Linked DNA regions of Homo sapiens: region 2 is linked to region 1. The links come from fine-mapping of genetic effects on gene expression. Tissue or cell type: thyroid. Region 1 holds a variant in brackets; the other region holds the start of a gene. All regions are shown on one strand. Distances are from middle to middle.

What was found. PIP is the estimated chance that this variant, and not a neighbour inherited with it, causes the effect.
Region 2: OSCP1 starts here. The variant in region 1 is fine-mapped to the expression of OSCP1 in thyroid (GTEx, PIP 0.98).

What each region holds. Positions count from the first base shown.
Region 1 is chr1:36,397,523-36,401,777 of GRCh38, forward strand. LSM10 (LSM10, U7 small nuclear RNA associated) reads right to left here and starts at 386. Exons shown (of 2, transcript NM_032881.3): 1 at 245-386. LOC124904013 (a long non-coding RNA gene) reads left to right here and starts at 3,741. Exons shown (of 2, transcript XR_007065797.1): 1 at 3,741-3,896. RefSeq lists enhancers at 1-243, 244-955, 2,673-3,269, 3,270-3,865, 3,847-3,936. The variant C/T (reference allele first, on the strand shown) is at 2,437.
Region 2 is chr1:36,448,122-36,452,249 of GRCh38, forward strand. OSCP1 (organic solute carrier partner 1) reads right to left here and starts at 2,330. Exons shown (of 10, transcript NM_145047.5): 1 at 2,137-2,330. The coding sequence starts at 2,248. It overlaps LOC107984940 (a long non-coding RNA gene), which reads left to right. Exons shown (of 3, transcript XR_001737976.2): 3 at 1,337-1,444. RefSeq lists a silencer at 2,456-2,725.

The sequences.
Region 1 (4,255 bases):
GCTTTGCCACCTCCTAGGAGGGCGATCACTTAGCAAACCACTTAGCTTCTCCAAGCTAGCTAAGCTACCGGTAAAACGGGATGAGCACCGCTTACTCAGAGCAGCGGGAGCGGGTCTGGGGAAAGGAGCTATACTCGGTAAATGGGGAAGAAAACGCTTCCTGGGCTCCGGCACCTCCTTCCGGAGGTCCTGGCATCCCCCGCATTCCGCCCCGGGGCTCCCTGCACCGCCGACCCGGACCCACCACGCGACATTCCTTCCGCTTTCCCCGTCTGGGTCGCCGCCGAAGCTAGCGGGCGCCTGGACTGGCTGCCTCCCGCCGGCTGCAGCAGGACGGAGAAACCATGCCGGCGACCGGGCCGCTCTGTCCTCCGGGCGCAGAGTGCGTCAGTGCTCTGCAAGTCACCGCGTCACGGAGAAACTACAATCCCCAGAATGCTTCGCGGCGCGGGGCTCGTGCTCCGCAAATCCCGGCCTGCGTCATTGGAGTCTCTTTCACTAGAGTCGTTCATTCATTCCGCACGCATTCATTGAACCGGCGACCTGGGCCAGGCTCCTTCCCAGGCTCCGGCATGGAGCAGTGACCAAGATCAAGTGGCTCCCTGAGCTGATGGCGCTGCAGGGGAGAGAGTCTTAAGAAAACAAAGAAGAAAAATAGGGAAAAATTTCTTCAGAAGATTAAAGGTGTGATGTGATGGTGACAAGGTGGTCTTTTATTGGATTGTCAGGGGTGCCCTGAGAAGGTGACATTTGAGTTGAGATTAGTGACATGAAGCCAAGCTTGTGAAAACTATGGGAGGAGCATTGCAATTAGCGGGAACAGTTTGTTAAGTAAAATTTATAGGAGGCAGGGCCGGGTGCAGAGGCCCACACCTGTAATCCCAGCACTTTGGAGGACAAGGCGGAAGGATCACTGGAGCCCAGGAGTTCGAGACCAGTCTGGGCAACAATGGGGAGACCCTGTCTCTACAAAAAATAGAAAAAATTAGCCCACCGTGGTGGCGTACACCTCTGGTCCCACCTACTTGGGAGGCTGAGGCAGGAGAATTGCTTGAATCCAGGAAGTGGAGGCTGCAGTGAGCTCAGAAAGTAACACTTCATTCCAGCCTGGGCAACAGAGCAAGACTCCGTCTCAAAAAAAAAAAAAAATTGGAGGCCATTGGTTTGAACAGGGCTCCTGCACCAAGCCCAACAGAACCAAAATGGAGTCACTCATGCTAAAGTTCTACATCACCAAGTGGAAACTAAGTTGTTTATCTGATATTCCGATAAATCAGAAGAGTGAGAGATAGCTAGATCTCCAAACCATCCTGTTTTAGCTGGCAGGATAAGGAAGTCCCCTCTGCTTTAGCCTTCAAAGTTACAAGGAAAGTAACTTTGAAACAACCAATCTTTTTGTTTTCTGTTTCTGCTTTCCTCAGCCCTTTTCTGGCTGTAAAACCAATCTCCTCTGCTCAGCTCATTTGAACACTCATTCCATTTTATAGAATGAAGTGTTGCCCGATTCTAGAGTTGCAAATAAAAGTCAGATTTAACAAATTTGGCAAAAAAAAGTCAAATCACCAATTAAAAGTTAAATTTTTTCTTTTCACAGTTCATGCAAAGAACCTGGGGGAAATGACCTTGACAATTTAGGAACACAGGAAAGGCCAGGGAAGCTGGGGAGAGTGGTATAACAAGAGGCCAGAGAGGAAGCAGGAACCAGAGCATATAGGGCTTTGTGAGCCAAGGTAAGGAGTTTAGATTTCATGGTTAGGAGTGCAGCCTCCGGATACAGTGCCTAGGTTCAAATCTACTCCTGGCTAATTGTGACTTTGGGCAAGTTAGTATCTTCTCTGTGCCTCAGTCTTCTCATCTAGTACTAGAAGTGCTATGACAGGCTATTGAAAGGGAGCGAAGTGATTTGATTTACTTGTAGAGACAGGTTCTCACCCTGTCATCCAGGCTGGAGTGCAGTGGTGTGATCATAGCTCACTGCAGCCTCAACTACCTGGGCTCAAGTGATCCTCCTACCCAAGCCTCAAGAATAGCTGGGACTACAGGCACACGCCACTGTGCCCCACCTGATTTACATTTTTTAAAAGTCACTCTGTATAGCCTTGGAAAAATTACTTTCTTCCTCAGCCTCAATTTGCTTGTTATGAAAACAAAAAATTAGGCCTTTCTCAGAGAACTGTAAGATTTAAGTGACCTTCATTAATGTGTGAAAGCATCTGGCACAGAGAAGAAGCTCAGTAAATTAGGCTTCTTGGCTGGGGGTGGTGGCTCACACCTGTAATCCCAACACTTTGGGAGGCCAAGGCAAGAGGACTGTTTAAGCTCAGGAGTTTGAGACCAGCCTGGGCAACATAGTGAGACCCCATCTCTAAATTTTTTTTTGTTTTTGAGATGGAGTTTCACTCTTGTTGCCCAGGCTGGAGTGCAATGGCCTGATCT[C/T]GGCTTACAACCTCCGCCTCCCGGGTTGAAGCAATTCTCCTGCCTCAGCCTCCCAAGTAGCTGGGATTACAGGTGTGCACCACCACACCCGGCTAATTTTTGTATTTTTAGTAGTGACGGGGTTTCTCCATGTCGGTCAGGCTGGTGTCGAACTCCCTACCTCAGGTGATCTGCCCACCTCGGCCTCCCAAAGTGCTGGGATTACAGGCGTGAGCCACCGAGCCCGGCCAAAAATGTTTTAAGAAATTAGCTGGGTGTGGCCGGGCGCGGTGGCTCACGCCTGTAATCCCAGCACTTTGGGAGGCCGAGGCGGGCGGATCACGAGGTCAGGAGATGGAGACCATCCTGGCTAACATGGTGAAACCCTGTCTCTACTAAAAATACAAAAAATTAGCTGGACGTGGCGGCGGGCGTCTGTAGTCCCAGCTACTCGGGAGGCTGAGGCAGGAGAATGGCGTGAACCTGGGAGGCCGAGCTTGCAGTGAGCTGAGATCGCGCCACTGCACTCCGGCCTGGGCGACAGAGCGAGACTCCGTCTCAAAAAAAAAAAAAAAATTTAGCTGGGTGTAATGGGTGCACCTATAGTCCCAGCTGTCACAAGAACCTTAGGGTGTCACTCTGCCATCTGGAAACCTCTGTGGCTAGCAGCGCCTGTGCTTGACTTTTGCTTGTGCCTGCTGGGCTCGTTCTGCCTGCTCAGTCTGGCAGGCTGGGCTCAGCTTGCACTACGGGCTCGGATCCCACGCCTGCCAAAGGCGTGCCAGGTGTGGAGCAGTGAGGGATGTGTGAGCGAGTGAGCACAGGGTCCGACCACTGCACACAGCCAGATAGGCCGGCTGCTGCAGCGGGTGGGCAGCTCCAAGGGCCAGCACTGGCAGCTCCAGGCGCCGGCACAGGCTTTGGCTCTGTGCAAGGCTGCGGCTGGACCAGACATACCGTAAGTGGCTTCTGCTGTGGGCACCAGCATCTGGACAAGGGGAACACAGTGGTGGCCGAAAGCTCAGAGACACCAGGAACCACAGAGCCACAAAGAGGGTGTTACAGTGTGTCACAGCCCTGGCTTGTGGAGCCCGGAGGTCTGGGCCCCAAGAAGGGCTGCAGCTCTTCACCACACGAGGAGCAGGGGCGGGGCATCTTGGGGGGCGGGGGCGTGTTTCAGTCCATATGTGTTACAGCTCTTTCAGTCCTACCGCTCAGTGCTGCCCTGCTCTGGCCCGTGGTTCCTGGGCTGGCTAGGCCCAGCCACCGCTTCCTGTCATGTGGCACAGCTACCCGCTGGTGGAGGGTGGGCCCCCGGAAGGGTCACCACTCTTCACTCCTGCAGTCTGGGAGTGTGTCACCACCCGCAGCTCAGCGAGCTGGCCAGGAATATGTTATACTCCTTTTACTCCCGCTGTTTGGCAGGTCCCAAGTTCTTGTTTCGCATCCAGGAAGAATGAGGTTATGTGGATAACTGGAGGGTAAGCAAGCTGGAGGGAGCTTTATTGAGTGATAGAACAGCTCTCGGGAGACCTGAAGTGGGTGGCTCCTTTCCGCAAGCAGGTCCTGTGGAGTGTCTGAGACTGGCTGAGTCTGGGGTTTTCATGTGCGAAGAATGGAGGAAGTGCATGCTGGTTGGCCCATGGGTGGCCATGGGTGGGCCTGGAAAAAGTACCATCCAATTGGCTGGAAGGCATCAATGAAGTTCTTACTCCTGTCCTGGGTTCCACCTGGAACTGGCAGCCCCACCCCCAGGCTTCAGGCCACCCCTGGCTTGAAGGTGGGGCTTCACTGGGCATCTGCCCCTTCTGCCTAGGAACCTGATTGCCTCCTGGCACTA
Region 2 (4,128 bases), 51 kb after region 1:
TATTACCATTTTATGGAGAAACAGGTTTATAGAGGTTACACCCAAAGGGCATGCAATTAGTTAAATGGTAAAGCTGGAATTGGGATCCAGGTCTGTAAGACTCTAGAGAGTATGTTCTTAATTGCTAATTTACACTATCTTCCAAGATGCAGACTACCTACCAGTCTGAGGACTCCAGCATGTCACCTCATTGGTGCCACTAGCCTGAATGAAATCAGATCACACAGGCACCAAGGAAAACAGAACCCTCTCAAAGGAAAAATGACAATGCTATATAAAACTGCCAATTTAGATAATCAGTTCAAAAAACATTTTGTGATCACTAATTTATTCTGGTCTAGGAATTATGGTAGGTGCTGGAGTACAAAGATGAATAAGACAATCAAGCGGGAGATAGACATATACACAGATCATTTCAGTATAGCATGGCCAGTGGTAAGGTACTGAGGAGCAGGCATGGGGTGCTATGGGAGCACAGGCTGCTATGAGAGCATGCACAGGCCCTTTCTGCATATGGGGAGGATTCCTGAAGGAGATGATTCTTAAGCCGAATAATGCAGGATTGAAGGGGAAGAATGTAGGGATGGGAATTACTAGCACAGAAATACGAACAAACATGGTTTAAGCGGAGATCTATGAGCAGTTTGGTATTATTGGGAAACAGGAGGCAGGCAGTGGTGGAAGAAGGGACTGCAGAGGAAGACAGAGATCAGATAAGGAAGGGCCCTGAAATGGCCTGTGCAAGGACTTGGTCTTAACCCAGATGGCAGTGGAAAGCTGACAAAGGGTTTTAGGCAGGGGCAAGTTTGGACAGATACACATTTTAGAAAGCTCATTGGCGGCAATGTGCAGAATGAATGGAGGGGGTATGTTATAGGGAGTTATTTTTAGCTCTTTATGCATGGACTTGCACTCAGTCACACACACACAATAGTTAATATCTGAATATGTATGCTTAGCATCTGAATATGTATGTTGAACATCAATTGAGCATACAAAGATTAATGGAGAGAATGTTTTAATTGGCGGCCATGTCAATTGCCTTTTCAACTTTTCCTCCTCCACTTTGAAATATAATATTTCCTTCATACTTAATCCTAGGAAATTTGGTATAAGCAAGTTGTTTGCCGAGAAGGGAGGAAAAGAGGAAAAGGAACAGAGTGGCAGAGTGTTCTGAGTCGTCATTTTTCTGGGGATTAGTGTGGTGTCCATGGGAGGCAGATTTTGCATTTTCGAAGCTCTCATATAATTATTTTCACAATTGTATTCCCCTCCAACACTTGTGAGGAGATTTATAACTTTCTTATTTTTTTCATATTTATCTATATTATTTTAGAACACCAAATTTCTAGAAATACTTCTGAGATGAGTAAGACCAATCTCCAGCTTATGTGGGAAGATACTACCATAAAGAAATTAAGAATCTGAACCTGGGCTGGACGCGGTGGCTCACGCCTATAATCCCAGCACTTTGGGAGGCCGAGGGGGGCAGATCGTTTGAGTCCAGGAATTGAAGACCAGCCTGGGAAACATGGTGAAACCCCATCTCTACTAAAAATACAAAAATTAGCTGGGTGTGGTGGTGCATGCCTGTAATCCCAGCTACTTGGGAGGCTGAGGCACGAGAATCGCTGGAACCCAGGAGGCAGAGGTTGCAGTGAGCCGAGATCGTGCCACACACTCCAGCCTGGGCGACAGAGCGAGACCCTGTCTCAAAAAAAAAAAAAAAAAAAAAAAAAAAAAAAAATCAGAACCTGTTCCTTGGGGGTAAAGAGGATGCTTGGACTAGCAAGGGGTATGATACTAGATGGTGGGCAGCTGGGACTCCTACATTTGGAAGGCACTGATTGACAAGAGAGACTGGGAAATCACCTCTCCCATTTGAAGAGATGGGGAAATTAGGGAGGTCAGGCACCCTAGTGTCCACTGGGAGTATTAAGTTCCTCTGCTGTGAAAAAAGCTTTTGGGGGGATTTGACTCCCGAGGGGCTCCAAATGGATGTGGCTTGTAAGAAAGGTCCCTGGTTATAAGAGTGAAGTGTGTAGGGGTGCGGGTCTGGCTGTGGGTGTTAGGGCGATGATGAGAGGGCCGGGCTGCTGGCTGCGGGTCTGGCTGAGCGGGCCGGGGGCCTCTCACCTTTGCGGGCCTTGTCTCCCGGGATGTTCTGGGCCCGCAGCCGTTGGTCGAGGATGTAAAGCATCTCCCCGCCCAAGTTCAAGAAGAGCAGCGGTAGCGTCCGCACCGACATGGTGCTGGAAACGAGCTGGACTGGTGAAGAGCCCCGGGGTTCGGTAGCCAGTGGCCTGAAGGCCAGGCCGCAGCGTCCCAATAGTCCGGTTGCTGGGGCAACGCCGTGACGGGAAGAGCGAGCCAATCAGAAGGCGGTTTGGTGGGAGGTGCCCTGAAGACGGGAGCTAATTGGTCTGGGTGGTGGACCGTCCCGGGGGGATTGGTCCGAGCCAGAGGCCGGCGCGGCGTTGGGCGCGGCTGGGGAGCTGTGCTTCTGAGAGTAGGTTTCCCTCGAAAGGGCGAGGGCCGGGCCAGGGCTGGGGGTGGTCTCGACACAGCCAGCCCGGCGCTTGGGACCCCGGCCGCTGGCGCGGGGCCTCAGGTTCCTATAACAGAGGAAAGCCCAGGCAGAACGGCATTAGAGCAGGCTCGGGTCAGACGGACCTGGGTTGGAATCACGGCTCGTGATTTCTTGCTGTGTGACTTCGGGCAGGGTTTGAGCCTTGGCTTCCTCTTACGTAACATGGAGCTGGCACTCACATCACAGGGCGGCTGAGAGGAATCAGTCAGATCATGGAAAGGCCCCGAAAGCACTCAATAAAAATGGTAACTGACTTTTCTTTTAGACGAGGGAAGGATCAGAAGTCCTGAGTCGTTTGCATCGCCTCCCAAAAGTTTACTTGAAGTGAAGCCCCTCCTGGTTTCATACTCCATGAAGCAAACCAGTCCCGTCCGTCCCCGTGTGTCCAGTTCCCAGAGGATGCGCCTGGGGGCTCTGGGAAGTTCCCTCCTCGACGCTGTTCCGAAGGCCTCCCAACCATTTCTTTTTTCTTTTTTTTTTTTTTTTGAGACGGATTTTGCCCTTGTCGCTCAGGCTGGAGTGCAGTGGCGCCATCTCGGCTCATTGCAACTTCCGCCTTCAGGGTTCAAGCGATTCTCCTGCCTCAGCCTCCCGAGTAGCTGGGATTACAGGCGCCCGCCACCATGCCCGGCTAATTTTTGTATTTTTAGTAGAGACGGGGTTTCACCATGTTGGCCAGGCTGGTCTGGAACTCCTGACCTCAGGTGATCTGCCCGCCTGGGCCTCCCAAAGTGCTGAGATTACAGGCGTGAGCTATCACGCCCGGCCCCAACCATTTCTCTTTGAGGGCAGCGACTCCCTTCCTTACCTCCATCTTAAGCTCCAGGATTACTTTTTGCCATCTGCTGTATATTTTTACTCTGATGAACAACCATTTCTGTAAATTTCAGTACTTCCAAAACCTACTAATTATCTTTCCCTCCAGCTACTCAAACTTGAAACTTGGGCCTTGGCTTCCAAATCTGTTTCCCAGGGTCTTTTATCAGTCATCATATTATGCTTTTTCCTCCAACACCTTTCTTACATTCATCCCTTCATTTGTTTTTCTGTCTGCATTGCTATGTTCCTCTGTATCACTGTTCTTTTCTCTCTTCTACCTTGCACTGGCTGCTAAGCTAAATGTCAGAAGACATCACTTTTTTTTTTTTGAGATGGAGTTTCACTCTTGTCGCGCAGGCTGGTGTGCAATGGCACGATCTCGGCTTACTGCAACCTCCGCCTCCTGGTTTCAAGCGATTCTTCTGCCTCAGCCTCCTGAGTAAGCTGGGATTACAGGCATGGACCAGGGCACCATGCCCGGCTAATTTTGTATTTTTAGTAGAGATGGGGTTTCACCATGTTGGCCAGGCTGGTCTCGAACTCCTGACCTCAGGTGATCTGCCCGCCTCGGCCTCCCAAAGTGTTGGGATTACAGGCATGAGCCACTGCGCCCGGCCAGCATCACTGTCAACATGACACATCCCTTCAGTGGTTTCCTACTCTTTGCCAGATCACAGTCTAGATGCCTTGGCATGGCATTCCAGGCTCTCCACAGGCTC